Regions from separate parts of the Homo sapiens genome. Here region 2 is linked to region 1. A link means that fine-mapping ties the variant in region 1 to the expression of a gene that starts in the linked region. Tissue or cell type: hippocampus. Region 1 holds a variant in brackets; the other region holds the start of a gene. All regions are shown on one strand. Distances are from middle to middle.

Region 1 (8,106 bases):
CTAGTTCAACGATTGTGGAAGGCAGTGTGGCAATTCCTCAGGGATCTAGAACTAGAAATACCATTTGACCCAGCCATCCCATTACTGGGTGTATACCCAAAGGATTATAAATCATGCTGCTGTAAAGACACATGCACACATATGTTTATTGCGGCACTATTCACAATAGCAAAGACTTGGAACCAAGCCAAATATCCAGCAATGATAGACTGGATTAAGAAAATGTGGCACATATACACCATGGAATACTATGCAGCTATAAAAAATGATGAGTTCATGTCCTTTGTAGGGGCATGGATGAAGCTGGAAACCATCATTCTCAGCAAACTATTGCAAGGACAAAAAACCAAATACCGCATGTTCTTACTCACAGGTGGGAATTGAACAATGAGAACACATGGACACAGAAAGGGGAACATCACACACTGGGGCCTGTTGTAGGGTGTGGGGAGGGAGGAGGGGTAGCATTAGGAGATATACCTAATGTTAAATGATGAGTTAATGGGTGAAGCACACCAATGTGGACATGTATACATATGTAACTAACCTGCACGTTGTGCACATGTACCCTAAGACTTAAAGTATTAAAAAATATATATATATATATACATACACACAAAAAATAATAAAGGAAAACTATACATATGGAAAAAAAAAAGAATGTTGAATATTGCTCCCACTCTCTTCTGGCTTGTAGGGTTTGTGCCAAGAGATCTGCTGCTAGTCTGATGGGTTTCCCTTTGTGGGTAATCCGACCTTTCTCTCTGGCTGCCCTTAGCATTTTTTCCTTCATTTCAACCTTGGTGAATCTGACAATTACGTGTTTTGGGGTTGCTCTTCTCGAGGAGTATCTTTATGGTGTTCTCTGTGTTTCCTGAATTTGAATGTTGGCCTTCCTTGCTAGGTTGGGGAAGTCCTCCTGGATAATATCCTGAAGAATGTTTCCCAGCTTGGTTCCATTCTCCCCGTCACTTTCAGTACACCAATCAAACGTAGATTTGGTCTTTCCACATAGTCCCATATTTATTGGAGGCTTGTTCATTTCTTTTTACTCTTTTTTCTCTAAACTTCTCTTCTTGCTTCATTTCACTAATTTGATCTTGAATCACTGATACCATTTCTTGCACTTGATCGAATTGGCTACTGAAGCTTGTGCATGCATCACGTAGTTCTCGTGCCATGGTTTTCAGCTCCATCAGGTCATTTAAGGTCTTCTCTACACTGTTCATTCTGGTTAGCCATTTGTCTAATCTTTTTTCAAGGTTTTTAGCTTCCTTGCGATGAGTTCGCACATCCTCCTTTAGCTCAGAGAAGTTTGTTATTACCGACTTTCTGAAGCCTACTTCTGTCAGCTCATCAAAGTCATTCTCCATCCTGCTTTGTTCCATTGCTGGCGAGGAGCTGCGATCCTTTGGAGGAGAAGGGATGTCAGGTTTTTGGAATTTTCAGCTTTTGTGCTCTGGTTTCTCCCCACCTTTGTGGTTTTATCTACCCTTGGTCTTTGATGATGGCGACCTACAGATGGGGTTTTGGGGTAGATGTCTTTTTTGTTGATGTTGATGCTATTCCTTTCTGTGTGTTAGTTTTCCTTCTAACAGTCAGGTCCCTCAGCTTCAGGTCTGTTGGAGTTTGCTGGAAGTCCACTCCAGACCCTCAAACAGGGATTTCTTGGTGTTGCCTATTCTCTCCCATGTGTTTAAATCCAGGGAGAGGTGTATATATTCTTTCTTCCTATTTGTTGGTAGTATGTTGGCTAGTATTTTTGCAAGAAAAGAAATTGAAAAAGTAAATATATTATATCAAAATATTGGGAAAATGGGGCCCTTAATACACAAGATCTGTGTCTGCACTGCGTCAAGAACTCTCTTCACTTGAATGCTGCATGTAAAATTCAACCCAATTTATGCAAAGTAGTTGAAGCCCTGTGTCAGTTCTCTGTGCTGCAAGTCATGATGGTAGTTTACAGGGAGAGTCCGGGTGCCCTGAGTTGGCTCATCTGTGGCAAATGTACTGAGCACATGCTGCCCATTTTTGCTCTGTCCCCAGAGCAGTCACCCTCCACCCTGTATTTAGAAGGATAGTTTTATTTCTCTTGAAGGAAAAATGCCTTTGGTTTCTGTGACCACTCCATTCTGTCTCCCATCAGATCATCTGGGAGGTTTTGTTGTCTAATGTCTGTTGGTTAAATCTTCTATCATCCCTGTCCTGCCTGGCTCATCAGGAATCTGCAGGAGTCTGAAGAGGAGGAAGTCCCCCAGGAGTCCTGGGATGAAGGTTATTCGACTCTCTCAATTCCTCCTGAAATGTTGGCCTCGTACCAGTCTTACAGCAGCACATTTCACTCATTAGAGGAACAGCAAGTCTGCATGGCTGTTGACATAGGCAGTGAGTACTCCATTGTGAAGGTGATAAAGCTCCAGTTCATGGCCCAGGTAGACCCCATAATCTTTGGGCCTTGTGCCCCTTGTTGGGCTGAGATTTGCCATCACCGTGGGCTGAACCTATATATCAATGTAGACTTCAGTCACTCTGGAGTCAAGTCTGAAGCACAGGCATGGGGTGGGTCAGTGAGCTTTACTCTCTTCCTAGTCTCAGGCCATGCCCGTGCCAACCTGGACTGACTGTCACGACATTAAACTCAAGGCAGGTGTGGCAAACTCACACCAAACTATGTAGCACATGCCCAGGAGTTGTCTGTCAGATCAGCTCATCTGAATTAAATGTCTCTTGCCAGCTACAAAATTCCTTATGAGTTTTGTTCCCAAAGCATGTCTGTGTGGTTCTTTACCTGCCCAAGGCCAGTGTCACCCTTGTCTACCTCTCAGTGAAAGATGTGACCCAGGTTTCACTGAATTTATTCCCATTTTCTGTGTCTTCTAAGTTCGCTTGTTTTAGCTCATCTGTCCGTCATGTTCCTGGTATGTTTTCTAGATAAATGGCTGACTTTTCACCCACAAAAGCCATAATAGCTGATGCTTCTGTGTAGAACCAAGTTTCATTTTGACTCAAGAGCTGGTACATTGCACCCCTTCATCAAATCTCTGTGTCCACAATCTCATAAACTATCAAATTCTGGGTATTTGATGAGAGAAAGCTTAATATTGAAGTATCTCTCCTATGAGGTGTTAGAACTATTTGCCTACAATTTATTGGGGAAAAAATTGCTCATTTGTGTACATAAACCTAGGACAGAGCACATAGGGAAGATAACATTCCAACACAGGGGAATTTTGCCCAAGGCTCATGAAAGAACCCAAGCCAGTTTTCTCAAGACTTGACCTCAGGCCTACTGGAATATTTCTCTGAAAGTCTCCTGTTCTCACACTGACAAGACTGATGTCCCTGTGTTAGGATTGGACAGAGGAATGTTTCTGTGTGCAAGGAAGAACTTAATGTAAGAGGGCACATCTGAATTTATTTGCAGGACATCGGTGGGATCAAGTGAAAAAGGAGGACCAAGAGGCAACAGGTCCCAGGTGAGTCTGAGAAATTGTGGACAGTTAATTTGATGTTGACACCTGGAGATGCCAAGTCCAGGGAAAACAGTACATCCTGAAAATAATGATTTTGTCTTGTCAGACAAGTCTGAATTATGCCTACTACATTGCTTTTTGGTTCTCATTAGAGTAAATGTTTAGGTTTCCATTTCTTCCTACCCTTATCATTTACTAACCTAGTGAAAGTTGACCATACCTCAAAAGCTGTATTCTCATGGTAACTGCCGGGAAACTTGAGCACATTTTATGCAAAATTATTGAGGACATGCTTTTCATGATCACTGTTCACTGTGTGTCCTGAGAGCACAAATACAGAGTGTCCTTTGACTCCCTCATCAGTGTGTCACCTGACCAATTGACTGAGCTCGCTCTGTGTGTGTGTGTGTGTGTGTGTGTGTGTGTGTGTGTGTCTTTCTCGTTCATCCTTTTCTACCTGGCCCTAGTCAATCCCAACATAAAGGCAATAATTTGTTACCTCATTAATGGATCTGTCCTTTTTCTTTTCAAACTCTTCCTTATGTTAGCCATGAAATCTAGCTGGGGCTGTGTGGTTTCTGATTCCCCCTGGCTTATTCTTTACTTTTTCCTACTTTTCCACGCTCAGCAGGGAGCTGCTGGATGAGAAAGGGCCTGAAGTCTTGCAGGACTCACAGGATAGATGTTATTCAACTCCTTCAGGTTGTCTTGAACTGACTGACTCATGCCAGCCCTACAGAAGTGCCTTTTACATATTGGAGCAACAGCGTGTTGGCTTGGCTATTGACATGGATGGTGAGTACCTTTCTATGAAGGTGATAAGGATCCACTGAGTCTTCTGGTTAGGGTCATATTCCTACTGCAAGTGGCCGTTACTGAGCTGAGAGATGTCATTGCCACAGGGAGGACCTATAGGCACATGTAGGTTGAATGAAACTCTAGTTCCACTTGGAAGCCCAGACAAGGGATGGGTCAGTGAGCAAGGCTCTCTTCCTAGTCTCAGGCCATGCCTGTGGCACCATAATCCTACTCTCAAGATGTTGGATCTGGGCAGAT[A/G]TGACAAATTCACACAACTCTGATTTTGTCTAAATTTTGTAGATCTTGTAGATTTCATCCTTTACTCTAATTTCAGCGTCTAAAATCCTCGCTACCATGAACAATCTGAGTATTTGATGAGACAGGGCTGAATAGTGCAGTTTTTCTCCTAGCAACCATTTGGGGGCATTTGCTTTAAATCGATTGGAAAAATATGGCATAACCATTTGCACAAACTTGGGACAAATGATATTTGGATAACGATCTACCAGAATAGGGAATTTTACCCACAGTTTCTGGGACAAAAACCAAGGAATCTCTGTGGTGATCAGCCTTCAGGCCTCCTGAAGAATATCTCTCACAGTGTCCTATTCTCATGCTGAGGAGCCTGAAGTCCCTGTGTGAGGATTAGACAGTGGATTGTTATGTGTGTAGGAGAACGAGCTTAATATGTCTGTCCATGTCTGAACTTATTGCAGAAATTGAAAAGTACCAAGAAGTGGAAGAAGACCAAGACCCATCATGCCCCAGGTAACTTTGAGCAATTATGGATGCTTAATTCTGTGTTGACACCTGGAGATGCCAGGTCCAGGGAAAACAAGAGTGTGTTCAATTTCATGTTTTCAACGAAGGTTGAATTACTCCTACTGACATTGCTGTTGGTTTTCATTGCAGTAGATGTTTAGGTTTCCATTTCTTCCTCCCCTTATCATTTACTCACTTACTATAGGTTGACCATACCTCAAAGGCTGTATGGCAACTGCATGGAATCTTGAGCAAGTTTATGGAAAATTATTGAGCCCACTCTTTTCATGATCACTGTTCGCTGTGTGTCCCGAGGGCACTAACTCAGAGTGTCCTTTGACCCCTTCATCAGTGTGTCACCCGGCCAACTCGCTGAGCTCACTTTCTCCTCTCTCTCTCTCTCTCTCTCTCCCTCTCCCTGTCTTTCTCTTTCATTCTTTTCTACCTGGCCCTGGTCTATCCCAACATAAAGGCAATAATTCATTACCTCGTTAATGGATCTGTCCTTTTTCTTTTTAAACAGTTCCTTATGTTAGCCATGAAATCTAGCTGGGGCTGTGTGGTTTCTGATTCCCCCTGACTTATTCTTTACTTTTTCCTACTTTTCCAGGCTCAGCAGGGAGCTGCTGGATGAGAAAGAGCCTGAAGTCTTGCAGGACTCACTGGATAGATGTTATTCGACTCCTTCAGGTTATCTTGAACTGCCTGACTTAGGCCAGCCCTACAGCAGTGCTGTTTACTCATTGGAGGAACAGTACCTTGGCTTGGCTCTTGACGTGGACAGTGAGTACCTTACTGTGAAGGTGATAAGCCTCCACCTGGTCTTCCAGATAGGGGTGATATTCCTGTTCCAAGTGCCCCTTACTGACCCGAGAGACGTCATTGCCGCAGGCAGGACCTATGGGCGCATATAGGTTGTAATGAAACTGTAGTCTCAGTTGGAAGCCTAGACATGAAATGGGTCAGTGAGCAAGGCTCTATTCCTAGTCTCCAGCCATGCCTGTGGCAACCTGAGCCCGCTCTCAGCACATTGGACCCAGGCAGATGTAAAAAATTCACAGAAGTATGATTTGGACTGAAGGGTTTGTAGATTTCCTCCTTCATTCTAATTTCAGTGTCTAAAATTCTTGCATCCATGAACGAGCTGGGCATTTGATGAGACAGGGCTGAATACTTTAGTTTTCCTCCTGGAAATCATCTGGGGCATTTTCTTTGAACTGATGGGAACAATAAAGCATAACTGTTTGCACAAACTTGGGATAAATGATTTTGGGATAACGATGTACCAGAATGGGGATATTTCACCCTTGGTTCTGAGATGCAAACCAAAGAATATCATGACCAGCTTTCAGGCCTCCTGAAGTATATCTCTCACATTGTCCTGTTCTCATGCTGAGGAGCCTGAGATCCCTGTGTGGGGATTAGACAGTGGACTGTTATGGGTGTAGGTGAATTGGCTTATTTTGTCTGTCCCTGTCTGAATGTATTGCAGGAATTAAAAAGGACCAAGAAGAGGAAGAAGACCAAGGCCCACCATGCCCCAGGTAACTGAGCAATTGTGAACAGCTACTTCTGTGTTGACATCTGGAGACTCCTGGTTCAGGGAAAACAGAGCGGGCTGACATTATCGATTACATCTCTTCAACCAAGCCTGAATTATTCCTACTAACATTGCTGTTGGTTTTCATTGCAGTAGATATTTAGGTTTCCATTTCTTCCTCCCCTTATCATTTACTAACCTACTGTAGGTGGACCAGACTTCAAAAACTGTATTCTCATGGTGACTGCATGGAAACTTGAGCACATTTTATGGAAAATTATTGAGCACAGTCTTTTCATGATCCCTGTATGCTGTGTGTCCTGAGGGCACTAACTCAGAGTGTCCTGTTACTCCCTCATCAGTGCGTCACCTGGACAATTCACTGAGCTCGTTCTCTCTCTCTCTGTGTGTGTGTGTGTGTGTGTGTGTGTGTGTGTGTGTGTGTGTGTGTGTGTCTATCTGTCTTTCTCTTTCATTCTTTTCCATTTGGCCCTGTTCTGTCCCAACATGAAGGCAATAATTTGTTACCTCATTAATGGATCTATCCTTTTAGTTTTTTAACCACTTCCCTATGCTACCCATGAAACCTAGTTGGGGCTCTGTTGTGTCTGATTTCCCCTGGCTTATTCTTTACTTTTTCCTCCTTTTCCAGGCTCAGCAGGGAGCTGCTGGAGGTAGTAGAGCCTGAAGTCTTGCAGGACTCACTGGATAGATGTTATTCAACTCCTTCCAGTTGTCTTGAACAGCCTGACTCCTGCCAGCCCTATGGAAGTTCCTTTTATGCATTGGAGGAAAAACATGTTGGCTTTTCTCTTGACGTGGGAGGTGAGTACCTTTCTATGAAGGTGATAAGAATCCACTGAGTCTTCCATATAAAGATCATATTCCTGCTCCAAGTGGCCATTACTGAGCTGAGAGATGTCATTGCCACAGGGAGGACCTATAGGCACATGTAGGTTGAATGAAACTCTAGTTCTACCTGGAAGCCCAGACAAGGGATGGGTCAGTGAGCAAGACTCTCTTCCTAGTCTCAGGCCATACCTGTGGCGCCCTGATCCTATTCTCATGACATTGGACCTGGGCAGATGTGACAAATTCAGAGAACTATGATTTTGACTCAAGGGTTTGTAGATTTCCTTTTTCACTCTAATTTCAGTGTCTAAAGTCCTCACAACCATGAACAATCTGAGTATTTGATGAGACAGGGCTAAATATTGCAGTTTTTCTCCTAGAAATCATTTGAGGGTATTTGCTTTAAGTTGATTGGAAAAATATGGCGTAACTGTTTGCACAAACTTGGGACAAATGATATTGAGATAACGATCTACTAGAATAGGGACACTTTACCCACAGTTTCTGGGAGAAAAACCAAGGAATTTCTATCATGACCAGCCTTCAGGCCTCCTGAAATATATCTCTCACAGTGTCCTATTCTTATGCTGAGGAGCCTGAGGTCCCTGTGTGAGGATTAGACAGTGGATTGTTATGTGTGTAGGGGAATCAGCTTAATGTGTCTGTCCATGTCTGAATTTA
Region 2 (8,106 bases), 73 kb after region 1:
GTTACCTTGCCCATTGGCAGCTGAAGATGGTTGGCCAGATGAGGGCACTGAAATCCATGTCCTCTAAACTTGTAGTTCAGTAAAAGAACGACAGCAGTAAAGGGTCTTTAGGAAGAGGAGGTGGAAGACCTGATTTGGGTTGGGGGCTCCAAGAAGAATGTCTGCCTTGCTGTGCAGAAGCCTCTGCATAACCTCCCTGGTCCCCTTGCTCAGTCTCCTGGCCAGACCCCTGTGAGCCCTGGAAGTGCACAGTCAGCTTAGCCAAGGCATCTCCAGCTGGGACTCATCCCTGGGCATTTCTGTGGCCTTGGGTTCCCTGGCCTCCTCCAGGCCCTGTCTTGCAGGCAATCGTCCTGCTAGGGAAGGGGGAAAGGAGGCTACTTGACAGTTAACTCTGAGCAGCTCCACAAGGTCCTGACTTAGCTCCTAGTCACTTGCAAACCTATATACCCCCATCTCATCCCCCAAACGATGAAAAGAAACTTTGCAGGACTCATGCCAGACAAATAGAGTGGGACCGTTCTGTAGAGCCAAGTTCTCAGGACATCAATAAGAGATGGAAACCACCTGCTGGAAGGTGCCACAGTGGGAACTTTGGGGCCAGGGAGCAGTCACTGAACTGTCAGGGTGAATCCTGGCTCCTGGCCCTCACACACCCTTTCTCCCCCTCCCTCCTTCTCTCCTCCCTCCTGTCTGCTCTTTCCCCTCTCTCTCCTGAATCCCTCAGGTACCTTCCATGGGCCCTGACCCCTCCTTTTCAGAGGCTCCAAAGTGAGCCCTCAAAACACTTGGTAACCTTGGACACTTCCAAAACTGGAGAGACTTGACCACAGCATTTTTATGAGCTAGGAAGGTCCTCCAGAGCTCTTGCCTAAATTTTTCTGCTGATGAGAAGAGAACAAGAGTTTCCATCTGATCTGGTCCTAAGGCAACTTCTCCTTGGAGCAGAGTCTGGGCAGGAAGAAGGGGGTTGCCCAGGACCCTGGACTTGCCCCTCCCAGCTGCTCTGCTCCTCTCCCCTTCACTGCGGGAGGCTGGCCAGGGATCAGGAACCTCCGTTCTCCACAGATGCTGGGATTCCAGGCTCAAATCTAAATATTGGCTGATTTAGGAGGCGAAGGGAGGCAATTCCCTGGAGGGAGGTGTCAGGATTTGGGACAAGAGCAGCATCTAGTTGTCATCCACAGAGACCCCAAGGACAGGAATCCACTGGTAGCCGGTTGGAGGGGATCCCATGAAAACAAGATGAAACGCGCCATTAGTACTGGACCCAAGATCAGGAGATGAAAAACTGCACTGTCCTAAGGGATGAAAGAATTAGGGAATCCTGGAAGTAAAGTTTTTCATATAGGTCATTTCTTCCAAAGAGACATAGGGCAATGGCCCAATGACATGAACAAAAGAAAACTCGGGGTCTAGGATTGAGGGGAGGCAGCCTTTTTAGTGGAGACCTGTGACCTGGAGGCCCAGGGTCACCCTGAGAGGGGAGGGGTCTTGCTGGTCGCTGGGTCCGGGACTCCAATTGCACACAGCCAGTGGCATGGAGGGTCTGTGACCACGATTGGGCAATTTCCCCCATTCTGCTTATGGAGCAATAGAGAGGAACCTCACTGGAATTATACAGAAAGGTCCCAGTGAGACTTGAACTCTGATCACTGTATTCAGAGTCCAAAGTGCTCACCATTACACCATGGAACCTCACACTAGCTTATAACTGGAGGTAACTGAGTTCATACTTAGCAGCCATAGTTCCCACACACCTATGTTAAGGCATTTCTTCTGATCCCTCAAGCAACACCAAGGAAGGTGGACCTGCGAGAGAGGAGTCATCCTCTTTCTTTCTTTCTCTCTGCCCTCTCCTTTGATCAACTTTTATCATTTCATTTGCACCTCAGAAAATGAGGCAAAATCCAGTTTGGGCTTAGGGCCAGAGAAGAGCCCTTGAGGCCTCCCTCTGGAAAACATACTCTCTCAGTTTACCAGAGTTTCCTGTACCAAGGGGAAATTTCCGCAAACAGTAGTGTTATATTCTTTTTGCCTTCCCTCTTTTCCCTTTGCCCAGGGAGGCCAGATGATTGTGAGAACAGGACTTGGGACTTCCTGTGTGTCTTGCCCCCTTCCTCCATGTGATAAATAATGGCTGACACCAAGCAAGTGGGATTGGGAGGCAGGGAATCTTTCATTTTCTTCTTCATATACTTCTACGCATTTGTTTGGTTGGTTTTGGCAAGATTTTCTCACCAGAAATGGAGATTTGTTGGATTTAAAATAAAAAGTAATCAGCCATGTTTTACATTTCTATAAAACACTCAAACCAGGCCATACTCCCCTGCTGTGCCTCAAAATCAACCATAAACTGTCGAGGTCAGGAGGCAGGGCCCTCACACTTAAGCACAGTGTGTTTCCTCAGAATTGGCCAAGTTGATGCCACTCCAATTTCTCAATATACCACAACCCATTAATTGCGGTTTTTAAAAGTGTACATGTATTTTTACCAAAACCCCAGGGCTTCAGTGTTCTCAGCACACAGAAAGACAATCATTGAGACATTGAGTATTGCTGAGGAAGAAGGCTTTAATCAGGTGCTGCAGCTGAGTAGACAGGAGATGAGTCTCAAATCTGTCTCCCTGATTGACTAAAGTTAGGGGTTTATATAGCGCAGAAGAAAAGTTAACTGTGTGTGGGAAAAGAGGAACTAGAGAGGGGTGAGGAAGCACTCGTGATGAGTGAGGGGACTGGCATCTCATTGTCTGGATGCTGTGATTGGCTGAGTTTCGGGTCTCTGATGCTTTTTGAGAGGCCTGAGAGTCCTTTCCTGAGGAAGGAACTCAGATAAAACAAATGTAAGTTTGTTTTATAGAATGGCTTGACCTCAGGAGTTTGAAACCAGCCTGGGCAATATGGTGAAACCCTGTCTCTACCAAAATACAAAAAGAAAAAGAGGGTTGCTTCCAAGATGGCTGAATAGGAACAGCTCCGGTCTACAGCTTCAAGTGAGATAGACGCAGAAGACAGGTGATTTCTGCATTTCCAACTGAGGTACCTGGTTCATCTCACTGGGACTCGTTGGACAGTGGATGCAGCCCACGGAGGATGAGCCAAAGCAGGGTGGGGTGTCGCCTCACCCGGGAAGTGCAAGGGGTTGGGGGATTTCTTTTTCCTAGCCAAGGGAAGCTGTGAGTGACTGTACCTCGAGAAGCAGTACACCCCTGCCCAAATACTGTGCTTTTTTCCACTGTCTTTGCAACCGACAGACCAGGAGATTCCCTCTTGTGCCTGGCTCGGCAGGTCCCATGCCCATGGAGCCTTGCCTGCTGCTAGCACAGCAGTCTGAGATCAACCTGTGACACTGGAGCATGGCAGGGGGAGGGGGTTCTGCCACTGCTGAGGCTTGAGTATGTGGTTCTATGGTCACAGTGTAAATAAAGTGGTAGGGAAGCTCGAACTGGGTAGAGCCCACTGCAGCTCAGCAAGGCCTACTGCCTCTAGATTCCACCTCTGGGGGCAGGGCATATCTGAATAAAAGGCAGCAGACAGCTTCTGCAGACTTAAACGTCCCTGCCTGACAGCAGGGACTGCTGTCATAATCATTATGATTATGAATCATAATCATGAAGACAATCTGTATTCCAGAATAGTAAGGGAACCTATTCCATCAGGGAGCCAACTGAAAACATCAAATCCCAGTTCACACCCCAGGGTGTGGTGTCATGCACCTGTAGTCCCAGCTACTTGGGAGGATTAGTAAGGAGGTTTGCTTGAATTCGTGAGGTCAAGGCAGAAGTAAACCCTGATCATGCCACTGTACTCCAACCTGGGCGACAGTGAGACCTTGTCTCAGAAACAAACAAACAAACAAAAAACCCCACAAAACCAAACAACAACAAATTGTCACCTCATTCTGAAATGACAGTGGCAAACATCACTTTGCTATTTGAAAATTAAAAGAAGCCGGGCGCGGTGGCTCACGCCTGTAATCCCAGCACTTTGGGAGGCCGAGGTGGGCGGATCACAAGGTCAGGAGATCGAGACCATCCTGGCTAACAGAGTGAAACCCCATCTCTACTAAAAATACAAAAAATTAGCCGGACGTGGTGGCAGGTGCCTGTAATCCCAGCTACTGGGGAGGCTGAGGCAGGAGAATGGCGTGAACCCGGGAGGCGGAGCTTGCAGTGAGCCGAGATAGCCCCACTGCACTCCAGCCTGAGCGAAGAGCGCGAGACTCCGTCTCAAAACAAAAAAAAAGAAAATTAAAAGAAAAACACTCCCTCTTGCTATCAACCTGCCCTCTTGCTCTAACTTGTCTGACCCATGGTTTAAAATGCCCAAAAGCTGATGTACTCAAATTATAGTACACTTACCTGTTCTGCACCAGCATTTACTTTTGTCTGGAGGAGATCACCATGCATGGTCCTATACATGTCTAATGGCATGGAATGATGAAGGGTAGTGTCTTTTAGGATAGTTGGATACATATATATATATATATATATATATATATATATATATATGCGGAATGCTACATCACAAGAATAAGAATGTGAAAAGAACCAGTTTCTTTTGTAATCCTAAACGTTCTAGTCTGAGAATTAAAAGCCATTGTTCGAAGAAGGGTGCCCAGGGTCCAGCTGGTCGCCGAAAGCTTGCTCCGCAATACAGGCTAAGGACCAGCTTCTTTGGAAGAGAACAGATGAGGGAAGCAGGAGAGAAAAAAGGGAGAGGCAGACGTCACTTCCCCTTGCCGGCTCCGGCAGCGGGTTGGTCGGCTGAGCGGCAGAAAGGCAGACGGGGACTGGGAAAGGCGCTGTCGGTGACATCACGGATAGGGCGACTTCTATGTAGATGAGCCAGCGCAGGGGCTGCTGCTTCGCCACATGCTGCTTCGCCACGAAGGAGTTCCCGTGCCGTGGGAGCGGGTTCAGGACCGCTGGTCGGACCTGAGAGTCCCAGCTGTGTGTCAGGGCTAGGAGGGCTGGGGGGGAGGGGGGTGTGCGCGGGGCAAGTGACCGTGCGTGTAAAGGGTGAAGCGTGTGAGGCTGCCGGCGGGGCGGAGGTGCAATAACTCATACTTACCTGGCAGGAGAGATACCCTGGTCACGAAGGTGGTTTTTCCAGAGCGAGTCTTATCCATTGCACTCCGGATCTGCTGACCCCTGCAGTTTCCCCAAATGTGGGAAACTTGACTGTATAATTTGTGGCAGTGGTAGACTGCATTCGCGCTTTCCCCTGTATTTTTGTCGTTTTAAAAATAGGTTTTGTTTGCTGCAGAAACGCATACTGGGCGTCAGCGTAAGCTGAGAATCAGGTCTTTGTTCCCATCTGTAACTTCACTGAAACTAAAAATTTGGGACATCGTGGTTCTCACGTTTGTAATCCCAGCAATCTATGAGGTACGTCGATAGGTTATGTTTATGTTAATATCGCTCGACCTCAGGCGTGTGTGGGCAAATATAGTGAACCCGTCTCTACTAATCTCTTATCTTTTTTTGTTGTTGTTCTATAGAAATAAAACTAAGCTTTTCTTTTCCCTATGGGATTAACAGCAAACAGTCCGCTGGAGTGTATGGCGCGATCTCGCCTTACTGCAACCTTTGCCTCCTGCGTTCAAGCTATTCTCCTTCCTCAACCAGAGAATACTCAGCCTCCCGAGTAACTGGCATTACAGGCTCAGGCAACCAAAAAATTAGGTCCGGCTAATTTTTTGAATTTTTAGTAGAGACATGGTTTCACCGGGCCGGGCGCACTGGCTCGCGCCTGTAATCCCAGCACTTTGGGAGGCGGAAGCGGGTGGATCATGAGGTCAGGAGGTCAAGACCATCCTGGCTAACACAGTGAAACCCCATCTCTAATAAAAATACAAAAAAAAAAAATTAGCCGGGTGTGGTGGCACGTGCCTGTAGTCCCAGCTACTCAGGAGGCTGAGGCAAGAGAATCGCTTGAACCCGGGAGGCAGAGGTTGCAGTGAGCTGAGATCGCACCACTGCACTCCAGCCTGGGCGACAGAGTGAGACTCCGTCTCAAAAAAAAAAAAAAAAAAAAAGAGTGACAGGGTTTCACCATGTTGGCCACCCTGGTCTTGAACTCCTGACCTCAAGTTTTCCGCCTGCCTCGCGGCCTCCCAAAATGTTGGGATTACAGGCCTGAGCCACCGCACCTGGCCTGTTTACAGACTTTACAGACACATTTTGTTTACAAGCTTTACAGGTACAGTTCAATTGCGATTAGTGTATATTATGTTTGGCCCAAGACAAGTGTCTTTTTTTTTTTTCCAGTGTGGCCCAAGGAAGCCAAAATTTAGACAACCCTGCTCTAGAGGGTTTGATTCATGGTTCCACTGGGTTATGCTTATTGCCTATAATTCCATTTGATATTTTCCAAATTTGATTTTTTAAAAAGCGTTTTCCTGAAGCACCCTAAAGCTTTCCTAATAATATGAGAACTTAAACCAGATTGGATGTGACAAAACCCTGCTGGAATCCTGCAACTTCTAACCTTAATGTTAGATCAAGAAGCAAAACACCCACCAGTCCAAGGGTCAGGGAAGCTGAAGATCATGCCTGAGCTGTAACAACGCCCTTCCCAGTATACAAAAGAGTGTAACAGCCACTCGAATTCTATCTTCCAAGTGTCTCCTGTTGCCCAGGCTAACCTAGAGCTATCTAAAGATGGCAAATCTGGGAAATGTGCATTCAGCTTGGCAAAACTGATACATTACAAATCCACCACAGTCCACTTCTTCTCAAAGTGGCATCAATGTACATCTTCCTCCTCTTCTTTTTTTCCTCCTCTTCCTCTTCTTTTGCTTCTTCCTCCTCCTTTTTCCTCCTTGTAAAATCATACTTAAGGTTCAAATAAAGACAATATGAAAATCATACTTTTTCTCATTCAGTGAAAATATGCCAACCCTTTCCCCAACAGGATAAAGTCTTTGTCTTTGAATGATGTTCACTCCTTTTTTAGCTAGATAGATCACATTCCATATTTGCTTTCCTGTAACCTAAATATTGAGATTTCTAAAAGTTAATTATTAATGAATGTGCTAGCTAGGGTGATGGAAGAGGAGAATTCTCAAGAAAAGTTTTGGTTAATATACACCCAAATGTATTCATCTCAAAATAATGAAGAAATACTCATAACTATTACAAGTCCTGATTTCTGCAACTGGCACTGGCACTAGCTGGTATTTGTAACTATCTTCACATCTTGTACCCACAGCCAGTTCCTTTGGGCCTGGGCCGGTGGACGTGAGCGTGGGAAGGACAAGAACCCGCGGTGCCCCCCACCGCACTATCCTCGGGTCTCCAGAGGTGGGATCCACCGGGCAGGGGCCTTTGCTGGATTCTAAACCGGCTCTGGGGATACAAGAACAGCTGCCTTTGAGAAACAGTTCAGGTCTCTATATTCCAGACTTCCTAGTAGGACTAAACGCTTAACGTTCACACGGGAATTCATGGTTCTCCTAAAACCCTGCGGTGGAATGCCTTCCTTCACCAAGCATTTATTGGGCACCTACTAGGTGCTAGGCTGGCTCTGGGCGAAGGGCTGCAGCCTGTGCAAACTCCAGGTCCCTGTCCGGTGGATCCCACCTCTGAGGGCCCGAGGGTGACGCGGTGAGGACACCACGGGTTCTGGTCCTTCCCACGCGCGCGTCCGCTAGCCCAGGCCCGGCGGAAATGACTGTGAGCTCAAGGTGTGAAGCGGGGCTAAGAATGGGAAAGCGAGTGACTTCCGCCGGAGAAGCTGCAGTTGTCGCCTGTAGAGGGGCCGGCGACTTTTGAGACGGTGAAGAGCAGGCGGGGGAACCAGTGAAGAGCAGACGGTGAGGAGCAGGCGGCCGTTTGGCCGTTGGAGTCCCCCAGCTGACTCTGCCCGGGTAGAACGTCCAAAGTGCCCAAAGACTCGACTCTTGGCTTCAATGTCTCCCGTGTTCTGGGTTTCTGGAGTGCGCGGGATTGGACAGGCTACAAACATATGAGATTATCTACGGCCAGAGGTTAAAATGCCATTTCTGGTATCAGCAAATCTAAACCATTAGAGTCTCTGTGGCGCCATCGGTTAGTGCCTTCGGCTGTTTGAACCGAAAGGCTGGTGGTTCAAGCCCACCCA

Direction of the effects. Alleles are on the strand shown, and positions count from the first base shown. SD is a standard deviation of normalised expression in the study named.
With allele G in place of A in region 1, the expression in hippocampus of the gene that starts at base 4,714 in region 2 is lower (moderate effect, 0.51 SD a copy in GTEx).

Evidence for each region. PIP is the estimated chance that this variant, and not a neighbour inherited with it, causes the effect.
Region 2: LINC01719 starts here. The variant in region 1 is fine-mapped to the expression of LINC01719 in hippocampus (GTEx, PIP 0.92).

The regions. Positions count from the first base shown.
Region 1 is chr1:146,122,398-146,130,503 of GRCh38, reverse strand. NBPF10 (NBPF member 10) reads left to right here. Exons shown (of 90, transcript NM_001302371.3): 12 at 2,222-2,385; 13 at 3,425-3,476; 14 at 4,096-4,268; 15 at 4,988-5,039; 16 at 5,644-5,816; 17 at 6,526-6,577; 18 at 7,226-7,398. Among named protein-coding and RNA genes, the nearest start is that of NBPF10, 18 kb to the left of the region's middle. The variant A/G (reference allele first, on the strand shown) is at 4,530.
Region 2 is chr1:146,049,204-146,057,309 of GRCh38, reverse strand. LINC01719 (long intergenic non-protein coding RNA 1719) reads right to left here and starts at 4,714. Exons shown (of 3, transcript NR_125968.1): 1 at 4,362-4,714. RNVU1-6 (RNA, variant U1 small nuclear 6) reads left to right here and starts at 5,066; the gene lies at 5,066-5,229. RefSeq lists enhancers at 4,396-5,127, 5,128-5,856 and a silencer at 4,977-5,216.